Linked DNA regions of Homo sapiens. The protein of the gene in region 2 purifies or fractionates together with the protein of the main gene of each other region. This does not show direct contact. Each region holds a gene or a part of one and is shown on either strand. Other genes may lie near its edges. The genes, in order: SPINK5, CSGALNACT1, DSC2, ARFGEF1, FBP1, PKP1 and FAM234B.

The links.
Region 1: the proteins of CSGALNACT1 (region 2) and SPINK5 purify together in Homo sapiens (affinity purification with mass spectrometry; one large-scale study listed by BioGRID and IntAct). This does not show direct contact.
Region 3: the proteins of CSGALNACT1 (region 2) and DSC2 purify together in Homo sapiens (affinity purification with mass spectrometry; one large-scale study listed by BioGRID and IntAct). This does not show direct contact.
Region 4: the proteins of CSGALNACT1 (region 2) and ARFGEF1 purify together in Homo sapiens (affinity purification with mass spectrometry; 3 studies listed by BioGRID and IntAct, with this or other methods). This does not show direct contact.
Region 5: the proteins of CSGALNACT1 (region 2) and FBP1 purify together in Homo sapiens (affinity purification with mass spectrometry; one large-scale study listed by BioGRID and IntAct). This does not show direct contact.
Region 6: the proteins of CSGALNACT1 (region 2) and PKP1 purify together in Homo sapiens (affinity purification with mass spectrometry; one large-scale study listed by BioGRID and IntAct). This does not show direct contact.
Region 7: the proteins of CSGALNACT1 (region 2) and FAM234B purify together in Homo sapiens (affinity purification with mass spectrometry; 2 studies listed by BioGRID and IntAct, with this or other methods). This does not show direct contact.

What each region holds. Positions count from the first base shown.
Region 1 is NC_000005.10:148,066,980-148,070,479, forward strand, and holds part of SPINK5 (serine protease inhibitor Kazal-type 5 isoform b preproprotein), read left to right. Parts: intron 1-3,343; coding exon 3,344-3,471; intron 3,472-3,500. UniProt on the Homo sapiens protein: Serine protease inhibitor, probably important for the anti-inflammatory and/or antimicrobial protection of mucous epithelia.
Region 2 is NC_000008.11:19,421,778-19,425,277, reverse strand, and holds part of CSGALNACT1 (chondroitin sulfate N-acetylgalactosaminyltransferase 1), read left to right. Parts: intron 1-3,500. UniProt on the Homo sapiens protein: Transfers 1,4-N-acetylgalactosamine (GalNAc) from UDP-GalNAc to the non-reducing end of glucuronic acid (GlcUA). Required for addition of the first GalNAc to the core tetrasaccharide linker and for elongation of chondroitin chains.
Region 3 is NC_000018.10:31,061,381-31,064,421, forward strand, and holds part of DSC2 (desmocollin-2 isoform Dsc2a preproprotein), read right to left. Parts: 3' UTR 1-3,041. UniProt on the Homo sapiens protein: A component of desmosome cell-cell junctions which are required for positive regulation of cellular adhesion.
Region 4 is NC_000008.11:67,263,782-67,267,281, forward strand, and holds part of ARFGEF1 (brefeldin A-inhibited guanine nucleotide-exchange protein 1), read right to left. Parts: intron 3,450-3,500; coding exon 3,310-3,449; intron 3,204-3,309; coding exon 3,095-3,203; intron 2,427-3,094; coding exon 2,225-2,426; intron 1-2,224. UniProt on the Homo sapiens protein: Promotes guanine-nucleotide exchange on ARF1 and ARF3. Promotes the activation of ARF1/ARF3 through replacement of GDP with GTP. Involved in vesicular trafficking.
Region 5 is NC_000009.12:94,615,519-94,619,018, forward strand, and holds part of FBP1 (fructose-1,6-bisphosphatase 1), read right to left. Parts: intron 2,343-3,500; coding exon 2,250-2,342; intron 1-2,249. UniProt on the Homo sapiens protein: Catalyzes the hydrolysis of fructose 1,6-bisphosphate to fructose 6-phosphate in the presence of divalent cations, acting as a rate-limiting enzyme in gluconeogenesis. Plays a role in regulating glucose sensing and insulin secretion of pancreatic beta-cells.
Region 6 is NC_000001.11:201,286,506-201,290,005, forward strand, and holds part of PKP1 (plakophilin-1), read left to right. Parts: intron 1-3,500. UniProt on the Homo sapiens protein: A component of desmosome cell-cell junctions which are required for positive regulation of cellular adhesion.
Region 7 is NC_000012.12:13,075,381-13,078,880, forward strand, and holds part of FAM234B (protein FAM234B), read left to right. Parts: intron 1-645; coding exon 646-763; intron 764-3,500.

The DNA.
Region 1 (3,500 bases), on a different chromosome or scaffold from region 2:
TTTTACGATGCTGTGATTTTGGTTATTTTCCAAGTTTAGTAGCTTGGGTTCCTTTCAGCATGATAAAAGCATGTTAAATGTCATAAACATGAACCTAAACAGCAGGGAAAAGCACTGCAGCAATCTGCAAGGATCTTAAGCATGCTTAAATTTGTCATCACCTAAGAGTCATTCTTCAGGCAAAAGCAAGCTGGTCAGTGCTCTAACACTGAGATAGGGCAATGGCAGCTCCTGGAGGGTTTTATTATAATATCTGGAGATGGACAATAGAAGACAACAAATTAGGCCTCAGCCAGTGAGGGAAACAGGAAGAACTTGGCCCTAGAGGGCTCCAGTTTTCCTGGGACATGCTGAGAAAAAGAGAATAACAGCAACAGTAACAAAACAAAACAAAAACAGGCCAGGGACTGGAAGTTACCCTGCAAGTAAACAGGTGCTGAAAAGTCATCTACTCAACTCAGGATGACTTTTGGTCTAAATATGCTTCTGTTTCAACCCTCTCTATTATGGTCATTGAAAGGGTATTCCATTTTGCTCAGAGAAAAACTCAACTGCTGCTTTCCATTTTTATGGTCTTTTCCTGTTTCCCAAGAGAATACATTGGATAATTTCATAACTCAGAAAAATAGCATTGAATCTCATCTTAACTAATTAATCACTGTGAACAAATTTCTTAACCTATTATTTGGGCCTCTGATGCTCAGTTTGTAAGAAAGGGAGTCTTTCTAGGAATTAAGTTCTCATCTAACAGTGATATTGGAGAAGTCCAATTTAGGGATTATTCTTATTGATGCAACTCTTTAATTTTTCTTATAAGTAGAGACAAGGTCTCATTATATTTCCCAGGAGGATCTTGAACTTCTGGCTTCAAGCAATCCTCCTCCCTTTGCATCCAAAATTGCTGAGTTACAGCCATGAGCCACTGCACCTGGCCTGATGCTACTCTTTTATGATAAGCTTTCAAAATTATTTAGAGCTTTATTCCAGGATTATCATGAGTCGTCTATATACTTTCTATAAGACTTACTTAATAAGGGATATATTTTCATTACAAAGACCCCAGGCTCTTCTCTGATTCTACTATATGGATTTTAGGATCAATTATATTCATCAAGGTAAGCATAACTTGCAAAGTTGGCATTTGATACTGTAGAATCAGAGATCAGACAGGTCTCAAGATGCCCAGTTATTAATCTGTGTCCAGAAATTACTACTCTGCTACTCTGATGGAGTCACTGTGTAGCTATAATAATCTTAGAGATATTTAAGCATGCCATCCTTAGCTAAATTTCCCAGGGCTGGTCTGTGATATCGTTTAGTTATTCTCCTTCACCATTAATCATTTTGCAAGTGCTACCAACTGCCTACCATTTTTAAGAGGCTAGATTAAGTACATCATTATTCATCCAGGCAAGTATACTTCTGTTCTACCTAATGCTGTATCTATGTCACCTAGCAAAGTATAGTAATCCAATAATAAGTGATTGCTGGCTCATTCAATGATGATCATAAAGATATAGGAGACTACTGGAGTTCAAGACCAGCCTGGGCGATGTAGTGAGACCCTGCCTCTCCAAAAAAAAAAAAAAAAAAAAAAAAAAAGAAAGAAAGAAAGAAAGAAAAAACAAGCACAAAACACCAGATATAGATATAGGAGCCTAAATAGAAACCTTTAATAAATTTTTTGGAACAGGTTGTGTTTGTCAGAGTTGAAGCAAAAGCTTTGTTTATTTGTTTCCTGATACAAGCAACTTGAAGCAGATTAAAAAAAATCAAAACAAAAAACAACAAAAATCCCCTTAGATTCCAAAGGCCTATTCTAAAGACCTAGTGAATTTTCACTGGGTACAGTGGCTCATGCTTGTAATTCCAGCACTTTGGGAGGCTGAGGCAGGTGTATCATTTGAGGTCAGGAGTTCGAGATCAGCCTGCCCAACATGGTGAAATCCCATCTCTGCTAAAAATACAAAAATTACCTAGATGTGGTAGCATGCACCTGTAATCCCAGCTACTCAGGGGGCTCAGGCAGGACAACCTCTTGAACCTGGGAGGTAGAGGTTGCAGTGAGCCAAGATCATGCCACTGCACTCCAGCCTGGGCGATAGAGCAAGACTCCATCTAAAGATAAATAAATACCTAGTGAATTTTCTAAATTAAAAGGGAATATAACATTTTAAAATCATACTTTACTAGGTAGCAGAAATGCACCATATTTTAAGCTCCTAAAAAAGAATGAGTGATGTATAGCAGGACTTTAATAATAATATTTAATATTATTTATTAATATTTAATATTGAATGAATCAAAGAATTACCACTTTTGAAGATCATTCTACTTTCCTTTTCCCCACCAATTCTATTATTTAAAATGTTTCCCCTGTCCTCCTTAAACTTTGTATAACGGAGTTATTGGTATTTACAAAACCAAAAGCCCAAAACAAACATAGTAGGATTTTAGTTCCAAGGGATGTGCCAAAAAAAAAATTACCAGAGAGAGAGAGAAAGAGAGAGAAAGAGAGAGAAAGCCTTATGCAATTATTGAGAAATTTCCTCAGTACTTCCATAGATTCACAAGGTTTGATTCTGATGGTAGTGATAGTAGTGCTGATGACATTTGTGGGGATGGTGGTGGGGGTGGAAGTATGGGTACTTTCTAAAAAATATAATACAAATTTGAAAATGCAAAATGGTTAGGCCTCTCCCAGAACCTCGGAAGGGGGATGTGACAGTGAAGGGCCCTGAATCTTAAGCTTTATTAGCTTTAAGGTAAGTCTGCCTGTGCTCATAAGTCAAATGATTTATCAAGGGACATGAAGTTCTTTTCAGAAAATAAACCAGTCTAGAAACTTGTTTTCCAGATAAATATAACCAAGAAATCCTTTTTTCATTTAACACTGTTAAAATTTCTAGGAACTGATATGTTGCAGTACAGCCATGGGGAAATGTAGGCAGACATTTTATAATGTTCAATGCTCAAACACCTTGCCTCAGTCCTTCAGCAACATTTTCATATTCCTTTCACAGCAATTACTATTGGCCTACTGTGTACTAGGTATTTTATATGTGTCATCTTAGCATATTCCAGTAATAATACTGACAATCACCAGCAACATCAAAACAATAATAATAAAAAAGGAGGAAGAAGGAAGGAGGATAATTTATTAATTGAATATCTACTATGTATCAGGCATTCTTTGAGGGCTTTACATACTTAATCTTCAAAAAACCTTGGAATTGTGTGTGTATATATATGCAGACATATACATATATCTACATATATATATCAAAATAAAGCTTGTTTTGATGTACTTTTAGCTAACACAACTTTTTTGGCATTATCTTAGGAAATGTGCCATGAATTTCAGGCATTTATGAAAAATGGAAAACTGTTCTGTCCCCAGGATAAGAAATTTTTTCAAAGTCTTGATGGAATAATGTTCATCAATAAATGTGCCACGTGCAAAATGATACTGTGAGTAAAGGTTTCTTTCTTTCTTTCCA
Region 2 (3,500 bases):
CCTCCATTTCCCAGATTCAAGCGATTCTCCTGCCTCAGCCTCCCAAGTAGTGAGGACTACAGGCGCCACCACCACGCCTGGCTAATTCTGTATTTTTAATAGAAATGGGGTTTCACCATGTTGGTCAGTTCAGTCTCGAACTCCTGACCTCAAGTGATCTGCCTGTCTCGGCCTCCCAAAGTGCTAGAATTACAAGCATGAGCCACTGCACCTGGTCAGGAGAACAGTCTTGGTGACTCAGTTCTCAAGCTTAATTCTCCTTTTGGCATGGTGAGTTTGGGGTCCTGAGATTCTATTTTTCTTTCACAATCGGAATCATCTGCTCCTGGCTGGTTACTTGGAAGGGGGGAAGCAGGACAGAGAATAAAGCAGCATGCCTGCCTGGCAACCACTACAGTCTGCATTTGGGGGCTGCAGCCTCATGGCCATGGTGCGGACCTTCCCAAACCACACCATCACACTACGTTGGGCACATCAGTGATTTGAGTTGAAGTGTGTCATTGTGTTTGAATGGTTCTGCTGCCTTTCAATCCACTGTTGAGCAGGGGGCACTCTAGTCTAGTGATGGAGTCCCTGCCCAATGAGCACTGCTTCAAAATGAGGATATGGGGCATTGATAAGTGGCCTGACTACTTGAAGAAGCCAATTCCTCCTCATCTTGTCATATCCTGTTCTAGAGCCCACATGGCCAGTACTGGTAAGTTTCAGATGAGGAGGCTGCCCCACTTCTAGGCCCAGGAGGTTTGGCAAAGACAGGAAGTTGTCTTGATTTTTTTTCATGGTTTTTCCAGTTCAGTCCTCTTTTTTGGCAGAGGGTCTTGGTAATTATCAGAGGCTCTTCCTGATGGCAAGAGAGGAGTTGGAGGGGTTCTTTCAGATCACTGGTTTATTGGAAAAAAGCCTTGGGTTGAGGAATCAGGAAGGAAAATTGTACCATTATTCATCCTCAGACGGACCCCTAGCTGAGCATAATGACCTGGCAGCCACCCTGGGAAACACAGATGGATGACAGAGTTAGCACTCTGGGCCTTCTCCAGTGTCTGTGACTGCCTGATGGTGCTTCCCAAGCCAGCAGTGACTCTGTCCCCACCCTGCCTTCTGTGCACACTCATGTTCAGCTCTCTCATCAGGACCTGGTGAGTGGTCAGGGCTTCAGAGCAGCTCTAACATGGACCCATACTGCCAAGCCAGCAATGTTGCCTTCTGGCCAGTGTTGATCAGGGTGGATGAAAGTCCCAGGCAAAGCTAGATCAGGGCAGAGTCCTGCGTGGGGCAGGGAGAACAGGCAAGCCGAGGTGTCTGGTGCTGTGTGTGTGTGCGCCGGCCCCCATATGGTCCACATGGAAACAGTGCGTGGACAGAGCTGGGTACCACTTCCCAGGGCTTTCTGTGCAGCCTGTGGACACATGAAGTGAATTCAAAATGCATATTCAGATTGGGTAGTGCCATGGATATAACATGCATTGTCTTTTCCTTGTAGAAAGGTTGCATGAAGAGAAAGGAAGCAAATTGCCTTTTGCATTAGGCCATATAAAGTGTTCCCCAGCATCCATTTGCCTGAATTTTCTTTCTCTAGAAGCAACACATCATGGAAGCATAGGGATTTACATTTTAAGGCTTAAAAAAAAAGTTCTTCCAAATTAAGGTCATGTCAGACACTAGGTACCTTAAGTTCTTCCCACCCCTTTTCCCATGACTATGACAGGAAGCCCATCCTGTACCCAATCCTCTGTTGCAGCAGAGGAGAGAACAGCATTTATTAGCAACAGCTCAAGCCAGGGTTAGGGGATTCATGCACAGAATAAACTAGATTAACTTGTGCATTAGGTAAGCATGCACACCACCAAATTACCACTCTTCCCTCTAAATTTGTAGCACTGTCTCTACCGTTCACTCAGCAGTTAATCAATCACTTGTAGACTCGTCATTTCTTTCATGCTGTTTCCTCAGTTTCTAACACTGTCTTGTATTCTTATTTAATTACTCAACATGATTTAACTTTTGTAAATATTTGGCCTATCTATACAAATGGACTGTAGGCTGTTCAAGGGGGAGATTCTTGATGTCGCAGCTCATTTAATGCAGCCTATTAAGAGCCTATGTTCTTCTTCCCTTGGCAAAAGTCACTTGCTGTTGTTCAGGTATTTTTGTAGTTGAACTCTCCTGTAGTAGATCCTAGAAACCCTCCTGGAGAAGGTACCTGAATTATGAGTCAGGTGCAACCTGAGTGAGGAAGGACTTGCTCATACATTGTGTTTGTGCTCTGAAAGTTAGAAGATATCCCTGTATAATGGGGAGGAAGAGGTCCCAAAAGATAGGAACCTGGAAACAGCGAAGAAAGAGAATTGCTACTGGCTGTATATATTAAATACATAGAAAGTTAAAGCAAGATGGACTCCAGGATCAGGTGCCTTTAGATGAACAGGTAAAAATCCAGGCATCTCCCATGGGTAAACCTTTCCTGGAAACTGACCAAACCGGGAAGGGAAAAATGGGTTGACCTGACTTACAGGAGCTGGGGCTGCAGACACCTCTAAGAGACATGAAGGTGCTCGCAGTGACCTCACACCATCTGAATGTCTTTGGAGACGGGAGGATAGCGTGTCCTTGACTGGTGCCATACCTAATACTGAAAAGGTTTTGAGCATAACTTCAATGCAACACACAGAAAATGTGCAATGGGGGCACCCCCCCAGAGAAAAGACTCAAGATAAAGTTCTGAAAGAGGAAGAGAATCCCTGCAAATGTAGAGTGGTGCTGAAGTGAATGCAGGATCATAGGAAAAATAGAGTCTTGTCCAGGTGTGGTATCTCATGCCTGTAATCCTAGCACTTTGGGAGGCCGAGGCAGTAGTACCGCATGAAGCCAAGAGTTGGGCAACAAAGTGAGACTCTGTCTCTATAAAAAATTTTTAAGAATTAGCTGGGCATGGTAGCATGCACTTGTAGTCCCAGCTACTTGGGACTTGGCTGAGAGAAGAGGATTGCTTGAGCCCAGGAGTTTGAGGCTGTAGTGAGCTATGATCATGCCACTGCACTCCAGCCTGGGTGACAGAGCAAGACCCTGTCTCTAAAAGAAAAAGTGTATTATATACAAGTATATATAATGTACATATGTAAAGTAAGTTTTTTTAACCAAAGAAAAATAGCGTCTTAGTGTGTAAAGGGGAATTTGAGCTCTGTAACCACTGGATTTTGTACCTGGAAACAGAGACAAAAGGGGTAGAGTGACTTGCCTCAAATCCATCAGAGGCACAGCTAGGTTTAGAATGATTCATACATTCATACACTCATTCAGAAACATCTGTTGAACACTTATGGGGCCCCAGGCACAGTTCTAGTCCTGGATCCAGGTTTCCAGACTCCTAGACCAGTGCTCTACCCATCATGAGGCCTCCTAACCTGATCCAAATCTGAAAGGCATGTTTGGCATCAAACTCTGACATGGGCTCACTGATCCCTAAGATAAGAATCCAAGCTCACTCCCAGATCCAAAAGAAG
Region 3 (3,041 bases), on a different chromosome or scaffold from region 2:
AGAGAGAATGAAACAAAACAGCCCTTGCCATTTCCCATGCACCAACTATCACTCCATACGGAGGCACATCAGTGAGTATCTCTTCTTTAATCTCACGTATACCTAGAATTTAGGATATACCAAATGGCTTGAGAAGAATATGCTCCAAATCCATGACACAGTAAAATTCCTCTATAAAACAAGATTTAGGGTGTGTTCTTTTAAATTAAAGTGCTCTGTTTACCTGACTAGCTATTTCAAAGCTCTAGCTTCTTTTTGTTGCCTGTTTTTTAGCATTATGCTCTTTTGTTTTACCTTAAGACTCTATATTGCATGTCTTATTTGAAATATCTAAAGTTTAAAATGCAGCCTCATAATGTATCTATTTGCTTAATTTAAAACATTTAAGCAAAAGTAATAGGTTCTGCTTCTTAGCTATTGATGGGATAAAGAACACAAGGACAGGTGGGGAGAGAAGAGCTTCTTGGAAGAAAGATCAGATCCTACTTCTCAAGATTTCAGTCCTCAAACCTAGAAAACCAGAACTGGTGAAGAGGAAATAATAAAGGGGGTCATACAACTGATCCCCTCTCCCCAGAAAGCAAAACACATAGGTCTGTCCTACATGTCCTACGTGAGAAGAGCAGGGCTGGGAACTACCTCTTACGTGTTATCTTCCAAGTGACATTATCAGTTCACAGCACAATATAGGCATTGCCTCTGAGGCTCATTGCTATGCATTTCTTTCCCTATTCTCTACTTCTTGTGTGAAGATTTTCTTCTCTCAGGGCACACATGAGCACGGTGGTTTCCTGTTACAGAATGTTCTCCCAGCCTAACATGGAAAAAGCTCGTAGATGTATGCCACTTTCTTTGCTTTGTGGTTTCTCAAGATATTTTTTGAAGCAAGGCCTGACTTACAACATTTTATAAATAACTAATGGGAATTTTGGCAAACTCATAAGAATCATTTCTTGAATTTCTAAACATAAGTGGTTTTTAGTTGCTTTTCCTCAGGTGGTTAGAGAGTGGCCTTTTGGTTAAAAAAAAAAAATTCACTGCAGTGTTTGAACCTGGCAATGATGAAGTGACAGTCGCAAACATAATTTTCACATTGGCTAAAAATTTTCAAGTTGAGAAAAAGAATTCTTTAGGCAATATGCAGTCTGATCTTAGCCAGGTACCTAACACACATGTGCATTTATTCATTCATCCATTTATTCATCACACACCAAATATATTCAGTGTCTACTGCTCTACATGTTAGGCATACAGTGGTCAAGAAGACAGAGGAGAACCCTTGGGGGTTACATTTCAATATGGGGCAATTATTGGTGGCTACAAGTAGGTTCGTGCAATTATTGGTGGTAGGATTTGAGCTGGCCTGAACCACAATATTCAGACACTACCCCTTCTGTCTGCCCCTCTCACTATCCCAAGGGAGAAGGGATTCCAAAATCTCAACACTTCACTTTCCTGTATTAAGCTGTGAATGCAAACAATTGTTCTAGTCATTCAATGTCTTCTGAGGAAAAACAATTCAGTGCAGAATCTAACATACACCATGTCTATCATGTAAAATTTATGCCACAGAAAATTAGTATGTGCTGAGAATAAAAAACCTAACTTTTATTATTTCTCTTTTTTCCTTTATGACCTGGGCAATATAATTTGATGAATCAAAATTTGGCCAGGCACAGTGGCTTATGCCTGTAATCCCAGCACTTTGGGAGGCCAAGTGCTGACAGATCACTTGAGGTCAGGAGTTCAAGACCAGCCTGGCCAACATGGTGAAACCCTTTCTCTGCTAAAAATACAAAAATTAACCAGGCGTGGTGGTAGGTGCCTGTAATCCCAGCTACTCAGGAGGCTGAGGCAGAAGAATTGCTTGAACCTGGGAGGCAGAGGTTGCAGTGAGCCATGATCATGCCACTGCACTCCAGCCTAGGTGACAGAGTGAGATTCCGTCTCAAAAAAAAAAAAAAAAAAATTAATGGCCAGAGTTGTATAGGCATGCAATTGTGAACACCTTTCTTGGTCCTTAGTGTCCTACATGAAAGAAAAGAAACACACACACAAACCTGTAGATGAAAACTTTACAGCCATGTGCTCTAGACACACAAATGTCTAGGCGGTAGTATTTTTACTAGATCCTCAAAAAGTAATATTTTTACAAAGAAAGAGACAATGAGTAAAGACATTGTAAAAAGAGAACTAATCATGAGCAAGGCACAAATTGAAAAATGAAGGATACAAGGAGATTGGGGAAATTAGTACAGAAGGTCCTCAACTTAAGATGGCTCGATCTGATATTTCAACTTTATGATGGTGTCAAAGAAATATGCATTCAGCATTCTCCTACACTTATGAGACTACATCCCAATAAGCTTATTTTAAGTTGAACATATGGTAAATGGAAAATGCTGTTTTGATTTGTAATATTTTCAATTTACCATGGGTTTATCAGGATGTAACCCCATCATAAGTCAAGAAGCATCTGTATTTAAAAGTGATTTTGTGTTTAGAATTTATCCTCTAAAACCCTATAGAAAGCTCTTAGGCAGAATGGCATGATCATATCTGCTCTTTGATGGCCCTTGAAAAAAGAGAAGAGGGAAGAAATTGGAAGCATAAACACCATTGGAGCTGAGTGATGCTGAAGATTTAATCTGGGGTACTGGCGGGGGGGAATATTGATCAGGAATGAAGTGAAGAGTGGGAACAGCTGACATAGGGTACACCTCAACCTCATGAATGCTTGGATTGGGAGTAGCAGAAGCAGAAGTTCACTCACTAGTGTCCTGAAGTTCTTTCACATCATCTGAAGCTTTTTAAAAACATGCATTATGCACTTACTATGTGCCAGGCATTGTGTGATGTGTTTTACAGGCATTAGCCCACTCCTTACATCCACCGTGTCTTGACTTGCATTCAAGTGTGTGGGTGGGGAGAGTGGCTGATTCATCTTGCACTTTCTCATAGAAGCACAGTCCTTCTAGTCTCTGTTTTAAAAGGCTACATATGACTGCACTGGGAAGGCATCAAATGACTACAGTACAAAC
Region 4 (3,500 bases), about 48 Mb from region 2:
AATACTAAAACTGTGACAAATAGATGTATTCACAAGGTAAGAAAATAACACAGTAGAAGTAACTAACTTAGATGGTCATAATATATTTCCTGGGAAAGGTGACTCTGGAACTATTTTGAAGAACAATTATATCTTTTATAAACAATAAGAAAAAACATGCAAGAGAGGAAGAAGCCATACTAAAACACAAAAGCACAAGACAGTATTATATAATAAATAGTTCTGCATTGTTGGAAAGTGAGGTGAGACAGAAAAGTGGCAGGAAATGAAGCTTAGAGTCCAGCAGATCCAAATCATGAAGGTATTATCATACCTTCAAAGCAGCTTTGGTTTTATTCTCTAAGAGAGGGAAAAAATAGACTTTCATTCAAGAAAGGTTACTCTAGTTAAGCATGGGAAAAGACTGAAGAATGAACAAAACCAAAGAAAAAGGTAAGCCAATTGAAAGATTATACTAGTTGAGGAAATAAATAATCATGATTTGATTTGCAAGAATAGTGGTGGGAGATCGAGAAAAGAGTACAGATTGCAGGGATATTAGGAAGTATAATCAACAAGTCTTAGTGACAGATTAGATTCGAGAATCTAATCCTTTGAGGGGAAAATCTAAGCTAACTCCCAGGATTTTAGCTTATAAATTTAGTAGCATGCTGGGGTTACTACCATAAATAAGAAATACAAAAATAACAGGCTTCTCTATTTGTCTTTTGTTTTGGGTAGGAGAACTAAGGGGCTGATGTTGGAAAAGGGCTGAGGAACAGAACGCTGGCAATGCTAAGATGCACGCAGGAAGAAAGAAAAAACAGCCCACAAGACTGAGACGGCATAGTCAAAAAGGTAGGAGAGAAACAGGATAGACTGGTGTCATGAAACAGTTGTAGACAAGTATACTAGGAATACAGTTCCATGAAAGCATTCTCATCAATGGCTGTATTAAGTAGAAAGCAAGTCTAGCTGCTGAGAGAAGGACTGGGAGACTTCCACTTCGAAGCCCTCTGACTACTCCTTCTCATTTCTCAAGTACTTCAAAATAAGTACCTTGGCAGTACTTACTCTGTACGACACTCTTTTATAAACATTTACACAGTACTATTTTTAAAAATTGCTCATGTTTAGAATGCAATCTTGAATACAAGGACCAATGCCTTCATGGTGCTTGGCAATAGTCCCAAGTACCAAATATGTGTTTACTGGGTGACCAGCAGAATTTCAATATGCATATTTGTTTACACACACTAGACCAAGAGCCTCTCAGAAGGAAGGGCTTTTCCATGTATCTAGTTTCCCCAGGATCTTGCATAATATCTGGAAAGATGAGACTTTAATAAATATTGACTGAACAATTAGAATTAATGCAGTAGTGACAGCTATTTCCTGAGGCAATTTGGTAAGATTTTGTAATTTTAAAATAGAATATGTGTACATTTTTGTTGAACTGTTTTTCATATTAACACTGGAGAAAAAAGACACCTGAACATTCACTAAAAGGCACTGCTTAAGTATCAGGAAGAAATGCTTTACAGAAGTAGCAAACCAAGTAAGCACACAGGGGAATTTTTAAGTTTATAATAGTTAGATTCATGGAGACGGCAAACAATTTCATTTTTCCTTATGGCATCTCTTTGAAAAAAAGAGATGGGCAACAAGAGAAAGGAAGGCAGCATGGTGACATTCACAAAGGAAATAGTCCAGGAGCAGGCAGGTATCACAAAGCTTAGTGGGAAAACTGACTTCACAAGATTAGGATCCGGTACACTAGCCAGGCTGGAAGAGAGGTGATCACCTCATCAACATATAAAAATGAAATCAATAACAAGAATAGTACATTTGTAAGCCAGCTGGAAAAAATGTAAGACCTATAAAGGAGTACTGATAGCTATTAGAAGTTTCATATTTTAAATGTTTTGAGTTGTCACATGATTAGAAAATATAATGGGGGGATGTCATGAGCTAAACAGTGCAAAATTGCACAGATGATACCCATCAACAGCACTTATAATATGGTGACAAATTAATTTATATGACAAGAGTGGTTGGGCATTACAGGAATCTAGTTGGGCTAGACTGCAATGAACAAGGGGGGCTGAATAGGAGCCTCGTGAATTAGATCCATGAGAACTATCCTCCATTTTACTCATTATAAGGTGATAAACCCACGGCAGGGGTGGCACTATACTGGCAGAGAGATATTCAATAACATTTCTCCTTAAGCTATGACACTTACAAATCTATCCCTTGTTCTATTATTTCTTTTTGTTGCTTTAGGACCTCAAATTGTTCTGGATTATCAGTGCCAGACATCTGTGTACTGTAGCTGCCTATTCCTGATGATGATGTTGACTCCAGGGAATTTAAACTTCCGTATCTGTTTATTGTCTCAGGGTGTTTGATTTCACTCATCTCTTGCTCTGAGGGTTTTTCCTGACCTGAAAGAAGAAAAATTGATAGAGTACATTATTCTATCAAAGAAAAAAAAAAGTGTAAGGGCAAACAAATTCTTGAATAAGGCAAGGCGTTTCAATGTTGCTTAGATATCTATTTAATACAAAATAACTATTAGGTAACATAGTAAACAACATACTTTGATATTAAAACACACTGTAATTTGTACGTGTATAGTCTGCACCATTAGGAGGAGTTCTTTTTGCAGTTGCAGTGCTGAGTATCCACTGGATTTCTGCTCTCAGCTCACTCCTCATGAGGAATTGTTTTCGATAATACCAGTGTAGCCCTGCAGCTATGAGTTTTTCTCTGAGTGAGGGTAAACATCAAACACAGATGAACAATTCAACCTTCTTAAAACATACTGCCTTTTATATGTTTCCTCTATAATTATAATACAAGAAAGTTGCATAAATATGCTTCATTTTACATAATCAAAATATTTCTAAGAAGATTTAGAAAAAAATAGTTTGGATAACTAAGTTAAAAATCTCACAATTTTAAAGCTAGACATTTAACTCACAGAGAATGTTTCCTCATCAGTTAAATGAATAAATATGTCATGAAATTGGTTTAACAGCAGCTGCAACTATCCTCCAAAGTATTATTCACTTAAAATGACAAAGAATTACAGCTCAAAATATCACCTTACCAAGAGTTGTCTGGGAGTTGGGATTCACATACTGATCCTTACTCCATTCAACCATACACTTCAAAATCGACACTAAGCATTCTAAACCTTTTTTCCTCAGGCTCAATTCCTACAAAGTAATTCAAAAACAAAATTTTTTTTAAAGGTCTTTTAAGGAAAACACATGACTCTTTCCTGGTAAAGTTTAAATTTGAAAATGTTTTTATAGTTCTTACCTGAACATTACTCATACCAAGTTCTTGACTGCCCCTTCCTTGAGCAATTTTTGATAGATCATTTACTAGTCTTTCAAATATATTGGCTGCATTTAAGTCACAGTCATAGTTTACATAAATATCCACTACACTCTGAGCATCTGTAACAATATAACATTAATTTCAACAAAGTACATCTAGGATATGAGTAC
Region 5 (3,500 bases), on a different chromosome or scaffold from region 2:
TTGATATTTTGCAAGGAAAATTGCATTCTTCCATGTCTACAACAGAAATGGTATGTTCCTTGGCATGACTTGGAAAATGGATAAATTGTTGCCTTTTTGCCTTTCTAGTATGAGAATTTGAATCTTCTATTCCTCAAACTGATTGTGATGTGGATCTGCCTCTTACCCAAGATAAAAAGCAAAATACGTTCCAATGACCAAAGATAACTGTGCCATGGGGGCTCTACTTTTCACATATTTGAAAGGAAATTATGTATAATACTAGACAATAAGTCACTTTTAGAGATAAAGTGCAAATTTGGGTCTCAGTTCTTTTTTTTTTTTTTTGAGACGGAGTCTAGCTCTGTCACCCGGACTGGAGTCCAGTAGCGCGATCTTGGCTCACTGCAACCTCCACCTCCCAGGTTCATGCCATTCTCCTGCCTCAGCCTCCTGAGTACCTGGGACTACAGGCGCCCGCCACCATGCCCAGTTAATTTTTTGTAATTTTTAGTAGAGACGGGGTTTCACCGTGTTAGCCAGGATGGTCTCAATCTCCTGACCTCATGATCCGCCCACCTCGGCCTCCCAAAGTGCTGGGATTACAGGCGTGAGCCATCTCGCTAGGCCAAGGGTCTCAGTTCTTAAGTTAATGCCTTTGTGTCCTAGAACAGAGTTCAGCTGAACCAACCTCTTCAGTCGATTCCAGCCTGTGAGGTTTCAGTTCTGAAATAAACAAGAGCTGAATATAGAATGGTATGGTAGACTTTGGAGACTTAGAAGGGGGTGATGGGAGGGGATGAGGGATAAAAAAACTGCATATTGGATACAATATATACTATTCTCGTGAGGTATAAACTAAAATCTCAGACTTCACCACTATACAATTCATTCATGTCACCAAAAACTATTTGTACCCCCCAAAGCTGTTAAAACTATATATATATATACTTTTTTTTTTGAGACGGAGTCTTGTTCTGTTGCCCAGGCTGGAGTGCAGTGGTGTGATCTCGGCTCACTGCAACCTCCACCTCCCAGGTTCAAGCGATTCTCCTGCCTCAGCCTCCCGGGACTACAGGCGCCCACCACCATGCCTGGCTGTTTTTTTGTATTTTTAGTAGAGACGGGGTTTCACAGTGTTAGCCAAGGCAGTCTCAATCTCCTGACCTTGTGATCCACCCACCTCGGCCTCCCAAAGTGCTGGGATTACAGGCGTGAGCCACCGCATCCGGCCTAAAATATATACTTTGAAAAAATAAAACAAAACAAGAGCTAAAGCTAAGAGGATGTACCTTGGATTTTATCATGTTTCCTGATGGGTGGATGGGTTTTCATTCTATTTTTCACTTATTCGTATAATTGAGCACCTCTCCCTCTCCCTCTCCTCCCTCTCCTCCTCCTCCTCCCTCTCCTCTCTCTCCTCTCTCTCTCTCTCTTTCTCTCTCTCTCTCTCTCTCAGAAAAAGCAGCTCTGGAGGAGGGGTGACTGCCCGAGTCAGGTGTTAGGAGACCCGAGCAGGGCTGGATTCTCATCCTATGCTGTGTGCTTTCTACGACTTAGAGCAAAGCTCAGTAAACTGTTTCTACAGACAGACAGATAGTAAATTTTTCAGTTTTATGGGCCATACAGTCTCTATCATAACTACAAAACTTTGACAGTGCAGCAGAGAATCAGCCAAAGGCAGTATGTGAAAAAATGAATGTGACCAAATGCCAATTAAAGCTTCATTCGTGAAGAGTAAAACTTAAAATGGATCACGAAACTTTGTTCTTTAGTTTTTTTCAACTATTTAAAAATGTAAAAATGGTTATTCTTTGTTCACAGGCTGTACACATTAGGCCACAGGCTGGACTCAGCCCGGGGCTCATAGCTTATAGACCATTGACTAGGGGACTTAAAGGACAGTTTTGACATAGTCTCTATTGTTGTCTTACACTCTCAACTCTGAGTTCACATCGTATCATCACTATACTTACCCTCTACTGCCTCTTTTTTAAATCTCATTTTCTATCATAAAAAGTAAGACATAGTAAAAAGAGTGAAATATCCTTCTCTTCCCACCCATATTTTACCCTATATTCTCTTTCAACAATCTAGTGGGTCTTCGTCATGCAATTAGTGCTGAAAAGCTCAGAACTTGAGATACAAATCTACTTCAGTCTCACAGTTTCATGATCTCCACTCCGGCTGCTCTGCCACAGTGAAATAGGACTGGATGCTCAATCTTAACTTCTGTCCCCAAACCAAGTGCTTAAGATATCACGTTTTACCTTTCTATAGATGCCAAAAATGGTTCCAACGGACACAAGGCAATCGATGTTGGAAGATCCATCAAGGGGATCAAAACAGACCACATATTTACCCTGAGCACAGAAAAAAGAAATACAACCTTAAAATGTTATAGCAAGATACACTAAAGGAGTATACATTAGGGGCTAAGAATGGGAATTTAGAAGAAAGTTCAAAAAATGTGGGTCTTATTTATTTGTACTGTCATGGAAGGCATGAGATGGCATACAGAATGCACAGATACACACACATACACACAAGACCATTAAACAGAGAAAATACCACTTAAGAGGTGCAGATGAAGGTAATGGAATACAGATAAGTCATGATTTCCTATATTGTTGATATAATCAAATCATAATTTTGCATTGAGTTTCCTGGCAGCCAAAGGAAAAAGAAGGTTAGTCACTCATTTTCCTTTATTTGTAAGGAAAAAAATAATTCCTTAGGTGAAGCAGAGACTTTGCTAGGGTTGAGATCTATAAGAAACTTCTCATGGAGGTCTTACAGATGCCCCTTGAGGTTGGGGTGCATAGAGTTTTCAAAAATATCCTGGCTGGGCACGGTGGCTCATGCCTAATCCTAGCACTTTGGGAGGCTAAGACAGGAGGATTGCTTGAGCCCAGGAGTTTGAGACCAGCCTGGGCAGCATAGAGAGACTCCTTCTGTAAAAAAAAAAAAAAAAAAAAAAAAAAAAAAAAAAATTCAATTAGCTGGGCATGATGCTGCACATCTGTAGTCCCAGCTACTCAGGAGGCTGAGACAGGAGGTATCACTTGAGCCAGGAGTTCGAGGCTGCAGTGAGCCATGACTGTGCACTCCAGTCTGGGTGACAGAATGAGGCCCTGTCTCTAAAAACAAAACTAAACAAAACAAATTTCTAGCGTAATTCCCAAAGTAGATAACTTTCAGTGGTAGTGGGAATACCGCAGATTCCTGTTTTGAGTGGGATTTTCAGTGGTGTGCAGGAGCTGGCTGGTATCGGCTCTCAGGAGCTAACGGTGCACATCTCTTCCCAACTCTGCCTTCAGTGATATCACATTGGTAGCTTAAAATCAACGATGGGAGAGTATTCACACCATTGACAGAGGCAAGTGGACATATCAGAGACTTGTTTGTTTGCTTTGAGACCCAGTTTACCAGCACATCACTGGGAGTTTTCCATCTCCAAATTAGCCACTTTACAATGTCGTTTTTAAATGTCTGTAGCAGATTAACATGATTCCCTGCCC
Region 6 (3,500 bases), on a different chromosome or scaffold from region 2:
GAGCCACTGAGGACTGGAGGAAGGGCCCCTGGAGCCTGTCACAAAATGCCTGTCTGCACTCATGCTCTCCCTGAAATGCCACAGATCAGACAAGCACCTTGCCCTGGTCATGAAGGCCCCGGGCAGGAAGAAGGTGGCTTCTGTGGCCTGGAGACCTTGCAGAAGGAGGTTGCTCTGAACCTGCCTACCCATCTTGAACTGCCCCTGAAGTATTGCTCCCCTGTGTTTTCAGGCTGTCCCTGTGTGCCTCAGGGTGTCTGGCCTCCTTTTCTTCCCAGACTGTGTGGAAGGCAAGGGGAAACTGAGGGGGATGTCACCACCCAGCAAAAGATCTTTGCCAGGGAAATGACCTCCCTGAGGATGGGGAAGGAAACACTTATCCACCTTCCAGATCTTTATAACTTCACTTGGAATCTCTTCCTAAAGCTGAACCTGAATCTCACTTGCCCTAACCCAAGCGCTCCCCCGCCACTGTGAATACAGATCACACCCAGCTCAGTGAAAGGAGCTTCCTTTCACCTGTCCTGTCTCCTTCCAGGGAAGTCCTAACAACACCAGCACCATTGCCTGCTTTGTCTCACTGCCTGCTTAGCCATCTGTGATTTTTTATTTCAGCCTTTGGCCTGAAATTCTCTTTCTCCCTTCTTCATAGAAGTACTGTTTCCCATCTAAAATTGCTAAGCCTCTATTTCTCTCTGATCAGAGGTAGGGGCTGGAGGCAACATTGAGCCAGGGGAGGTGCCTGCTCCCTTTCTGTAGTTCCTGTGTCTATTCAGCCCTCATCAGGGGAGAGGGGGGCATGCTTGTACGAACTCCGCAGCCTGCACAGTGAAGGAGCTCGCCTCAGGAGCCCCCACTTTGATGGCTTTTTGTATTTGTGTTTGACTATGTCTCAGCATGAGCTTCTGCCCGAGTGTTCTGCTCATTAGAGTTTCTAGAAAGTTGTCCTTTCCTGACCACAGGCATCACTTCTGGGGTTGTTTTCTTGGGACCGAAGCTGAGATTGCAGATGGTAATGGCTATGTGTGCTTTAGCTTGTTCCATTGGCGAAACATACCAATTAAACTTCAAATGAACCAATTCTTGTTTCTTTACAATGTACCTTGGCTTGAAGTTGGAGTTTTAGCCAGAATTTCCGTTGGCCTGTTACAACACATGCAAAAATGCTGGGTATTCTAGGGTGTTTTGCAGCAAATGCTGCTTCTCTGGATCCTGCTCCTTGACAGAGATTTTTTAAAAGTACAAATTCCTCCCCCGACCCCATACCATTGTAAGTATCATTGTGCCAATTGTTCTAGGTTTAGAAATCTGGGAAGCGCTTCTGCGATGGGCCGTGACCCTTACAAGATGTGTAATGTTTGAACAAAATAAAATGGACGAATGTTAGATATCTTCATGTGAAGTTCCTTCTAGGCATACGCTGGACACATGCGCACACATGTATACACACATAGGTCACACATGCATATATGCATGTATACACAATACACCCCACACATGAATCCACACACCCACACATGCACACACGTACACACACATAACATGCACACACTTATGTTATGTGTGTGTACATGTGTGTCCTTGCAGCTGTGCTGTGTCAGGAGCCCAGCCTGGCATCTACCTGGTGTGCGATCTTGGACAAGTCGCTGCCTCTCTTTGGGTCTCTGCAGCTGTCAGAGGTTGGATTAGATCATCTCCAAAGTGCTTTGCAATGGGAACACTCTTTGGAAATAGATTTTATAACTCTCTAGCTCTGCAAACCATTTGCCCAGACCGCCAGCAGCTGTTCTGCCAAAAAGCTCTTCCCCTTAAGGCATGCCACTCATCGTGTCTCTCTCGTAAACATCCTAACATATTAAAAAGTCTTCTCATCCACTCTTCTCAAACTTGGCTACATATTGGAATCACCTGGAAATTTCAAACAACACAAATGCGTGAGTCCCACCCCCAGAGATTCTGACTTAGTGAGTATGAAAGATGGCACGGGCATCAGGACTTCAGAAACTCCCAGGTGATTCTCATGTGTAGCCAAGTTGGAGAACCACTGTTCTAGTCCCTGTCCTTCACTCACACAGATCCAGCATGGGGGAGCACCCCTATACAATGACATACACCCATGTCTTTCTCTCATACACACACACACACGCACACTTAATGTAGTAGTTGCTGGCGAGAGCCTTTGACTCTGAACCCCACCTGAACCCGTCAACCCTTGCCCACTCTAACCCACCACCCTGCCCCCTCACGCCCATCCTGTCCCCACAGGATGCTCCCATGCTCTGCCCAGTCCTCAGGCTTGGTGGTGGCCATGAACAGATCTGCTGAAAGAGCAGCAGGATTGTGGCAGAGCTAGGTCTGAACGCGTCCCAGCAGAGCCTGAGGGAGTCACATGGGCTGGAGAGGGAGAAGAGAGAACACAGGCCACAGCAACCCAGTTTGTTTCAGCATTTCTGTTCAGTACGTACACCCAGGAAAAGGTCAAGAGCCACACCAAAGTGCCCGGTGAGGCTGTGCTGAACTCCTTGCCCTCCCCATCTCCTAGAAGCTGCCGAGTTGGGGAGGCATGTCCACGGTGCTCCCAGCAGCCCAGCAGAGGGGGCAGGAGGCTGGCCAGCCCAGTCCTCCCTCCAGGAGCTGGAACCATCCCGCAGACACAGTCCACTCCTGCCCACTCCGAAACACCTCTGAGGGTATTCTCTCAGCAGTAGCTTCCTGGCAGTTCTTGTTATCTCATTTAAATTCCTATTGCTGTGGGCCTAGCTTTTCTGGGCACCATGGGTGAAAGAGATTTCAGAGGGTGAAGTAAAGGCATTTTCAAGACTAAAAGAAAATGAGCTTCCTTTCTCAAGCTTTTCATGCTGAAGGACAGGTGGGCTTTATTCAAAAGTAGAATATGCTAGAAGAAGCATCGGCCTTAAGGGAGACAGAGTAAGCAAGAATGTGTTCCGAGCAGCTTGCCCTGTGACGAAGGAGAAGGATTTGAGGGGAGGGAAAGTGGAAAAAGCGGATTTCCCTATGACCTCTGTCTGCAGGAAGGCTGATGTCCTGAGAGCCTTCTCTATGTAGAACCTGGGCCTGGGATTGGGGGTGTGGAGTGTGGATCTACCAAAGGTGAAGATTCCTTGCTTCAGGGAGCTCCCAGCTTGGTTGGGGAGACCCAGGCCCTACCTTCTGGGAGGAGTGCACACACACACACACACACACACACACACACACACACAGTGTACAGAAGCCACATTCCAAGGAGCCCACAAGCCAGTGCAGAGTCAGCCGCTGGATTGAGTGCTGACATGGTTATGCTGGCAAGTTTGGAGTGCTCAGAGCTGGGTGCGGTCATCTTTAGGAGAAGCTGATTTTTGTGCAAGGTTTTGAATGCAGGGGGAGGGTTGGAGAAGAAGAGAAAGAATGTTTCAGGTGCAGTAAGTGTGACCTATTTGAAAGCTTGGAGGTGGAAGAGGATGAGTCATCCCTGCAAAGGCTCACCTGCCCCTACTGGAGAG
Region 7 (3,500 bases), on a different chromosome or scaffold from region 2:
ATCTTGTCAGATTCCTCTCTTGGGACCTGTACATTGCCTTTTCTTTTCTTTTCTTTTTTTTTTTTTTTATTTTTTGAGACAGAGTCTCTCTCTGTCACCCAGGCTGGAGTGCAGTGGCATGATCTTGGCTCACTGCAACCTGTGCCTCCCAGGTTCAAGTGATTCTCCTGCCTCAGCCTCCTGAGTAGCTGGGGCTACAGGCATACCACCAAGCCCAGCTTTTTTTTCTCTTTTTTTTTTTTTTTTTGTATTTTCGGTAGGGACAGGGTTTCTCCATGTTGGCCAGGCTGGTCTCGAACTCCTGACCTCAGGTCATCTGCCCACCTCGGCCTCCTAAAGTGCTGGGATTACAGGCATGAGCCACCGCACCAGGCCTGCCTTCCTTTTTTTTCTTACAAGGGAGAAAGCATTTTCCAGCTGTAGATAGTGGTTTGAAAGAGTTAGTGATTACTATTTTGAGCTCTTTGAAATATGTCTCTTATACAGGGGAGTTTCTTTCAAACACATTCTTGTAGTTAGGATCAGGCATTAGCATCTGAGAGGAATGAGTAATCACCATTTTCTACTCTGCCTTTTCACCTGAGGACTGTCACGTGTGGGAATGTAGCGTTACCTTTGCTCTTCCTTTTTGCTGCTTATTATCAGGATATCATCCTAGGAACTGAGCCGCCCAGCCTTCACCACCTTTACCTCCTGCATCCTGCGTTCCCCTCCATCCTTCTGGATCTGGCCAACACCACCGGCACAGTGACGGCTTCAGAGGGTGAGTCCCAGTGCCAGCGGGAGTCTGTGTACGCAGATGGTGGGAGAGTATGTGTTGGCTGTGTGTAATGAGACCATTGCCCCACCCAGGGAAGGATGTGTGCTTCTCAGACGACAGCAGGGCACTTTCCCTGGTGTCCCTGGTGCCTCTTTGCTGGAATGCTCCCCTGGGTGGAAGCCCCGGGCTCACAGGGTGAGAACCCATATGCTCTGAATGTGGAGGTGAAAGCGCGTCCCATTCCAAAGGGTCTGTAAGGTGATGATTCATCCAGCCACTCCTTCAGCAGACATTTAATGAGCATCATCTGTATGCCAGACACTGTGCCAGGTGCTGGGACTACAAATAAGACTAGTTTCTTGACCCACTCAGAGATTAGGATTTGGAATTAACTGTGAAGGACATGATGGAGATAGAATGTGTTTTGCCAGGGCATTGATTTAGAAAACCTTTTTTTGAATATAACTGTGCACCCTGCATAGAAATTGGAGAAAGAAGAAAAATCAAAGGAAGAAAGAAAAATTGGCCATAATCTGGCCACTCATAACCACTATTAGCATTTTGGAAGTGTTCTTCTACTTTACATATCTGTCTAAATAACACTGTAAATAAAATGGGATCCTATATGGGAGACCCTCAACTCAGGAAACCAAAGCATTGGGATTGCAGCCTCTGCTGCCTGCTAGTCTAGGTTGTCTGGTGATCTCCTCAGCGATTCCTTCCCTCATGGAATCTGCTGTTCCTGTTGGGAGGTCAGGGAGTGCAGGAGTGGGAGAGGACCAGATGACCACATCTCCTTTCTTTCTTTCCACATTCTCTTGCTACTTATGGACTTGGCTGTCTACTTACAAACTCATTGGCCTTGGGCTGCAGCTGGTGTTTGTAGCTCTCTCGATTTATTGGGATACACGGGGAAGAACAGCTTACCTGGAACTTGCAGGCACACCTGTCCACTGATTGGGGGGTGGGGGCAGGGAGGTATGAGCTTGGAAAATCCTGTGATTAGATCTGAGTGAGCTGTTTTTTCAACAGTAGCATAAAATATTCAGTGAACATCAAATAATGGTAATTAAGAATCTTGACACCATTTTTATTACAACTTGTATTTTATTTTATTTATTCATTTTTTAAATTTTATTATTATTATACTTTAAGGTTTAGGGTACATGTGCACAATGTGCAGGTTAGTTACATATGTATACATGTGCCATGCTGGTGTGCTGCACCCATTAACTCGTCATCTAGCATTAGGTATATCTCCTAATGCTATCCCTCCCCCCTCCCCCCCACCCCACAACAGTCCCCAGAGTGTGATGTTCCCCTTCTTGTGTCCATGTGTTCTCATTGTTCTATTCCCACCTATGAGTGAGAACATGCGGTGTTTGGTTTTTTGTCCTTGCGATAGTTTACTGAGAATGATGATTTCTAATTTCATCCATGTCCCTACAAAGGACATGAACTCATCATTTTTTATGGCTGCATAGTATTCCATGGTGTATATGTGCCACATTTTCTTAATCCAGTCTATCATTGTTGGACATTTGGGTTGGTTCCAAGTCTTTGCTATTGTGAATAGTGCCGCAATAAATATACGTGTGCATGTGTCTTTATGGCAGCATGATTTATAGTCTTTTGGGTATATACCCAGTAATGGGATGGCTGGGTCAAATGGTATTTCTAGTTCTAGATCCCTGAGGAATCGCCACACTGACTTCCACAATGGTTGAACTAGTTTACAGTCCCAACAGTGTAAAAGTATTCCTATTTCTCCACATCCTCTCCAGCACCTGTTGTTTCCTGACTTTTTAATGATTGCCATTCTAACTGGTGTGAGATGGTATCTCATTGTGGTTTTGATTTGCATTTCTCTGATGGCCAGTGATGGTGAGCATTTTTTCATGTGTTTTTTGGCTGCATAAATGTCTTCTTTTGAGAAGTGTCTGTTCATGTCCTTCGCCCACTTGTTGATGGGGTTGTTTGTTTTTTTCTTGTAAATTTGTTGGAGTTCACTGTAGATTCTGGATATTAGCCCTTTGTCAGATGAGTAGGTTGCGAAAATTTTCTCCCATTTTGTAGGTTGCCTGTTCACTCTGATGGTAGTTTCTTTTGCTGTGCAGAAGCTCTTTAGTTTAATTAGATCCCGTTTGTCAATTTTGTCTTTTGTTGCCATTGCTTTTGGTGTTTTAGACATGAAGTCCTTGCCCATGCCTATGTCCTGAATGGTAATGCCTAGGTTTCTTTCTAGGGTTTTTATGGTTTTAGGTCTAACGTTTAAGTCCACAGCCAATATCCTACTGAATGGGCAAAAACTGGAAGCATTCCCTTTGAAAACTGGCATAAGACAGGGATGCCCTCTCTCACCACTCCTATTCAACATAGTGTTGGAAGTTCTGGCTAGGGCAGTTAGGCAAGAGAAGGAAATAAAGGGTATTCAATTAGGAAAAGAGGAAGTCAAATTGTCCATGTTTGCAGATGACATGATTGCATATCTAGAAAACCCCATTGTCTCAGCCCAAAATCTCCTTAAGCTGATAAGCAACTTCAGCAAAGTCTCAGGATACAAAATCAATGTACAAAAATCACAGGCATTCTTATACACCAATAACAGACAAACAGAGAGCCATATCATGAGTGAACTCCCATTCACAATTGCTTCAAAGAGAATAAAAGACCTAGGAATCCAACTTACAAGGGACATGAAGGACCTCTTCAAGGAGAACTACAAACCACTGCTCAAGGA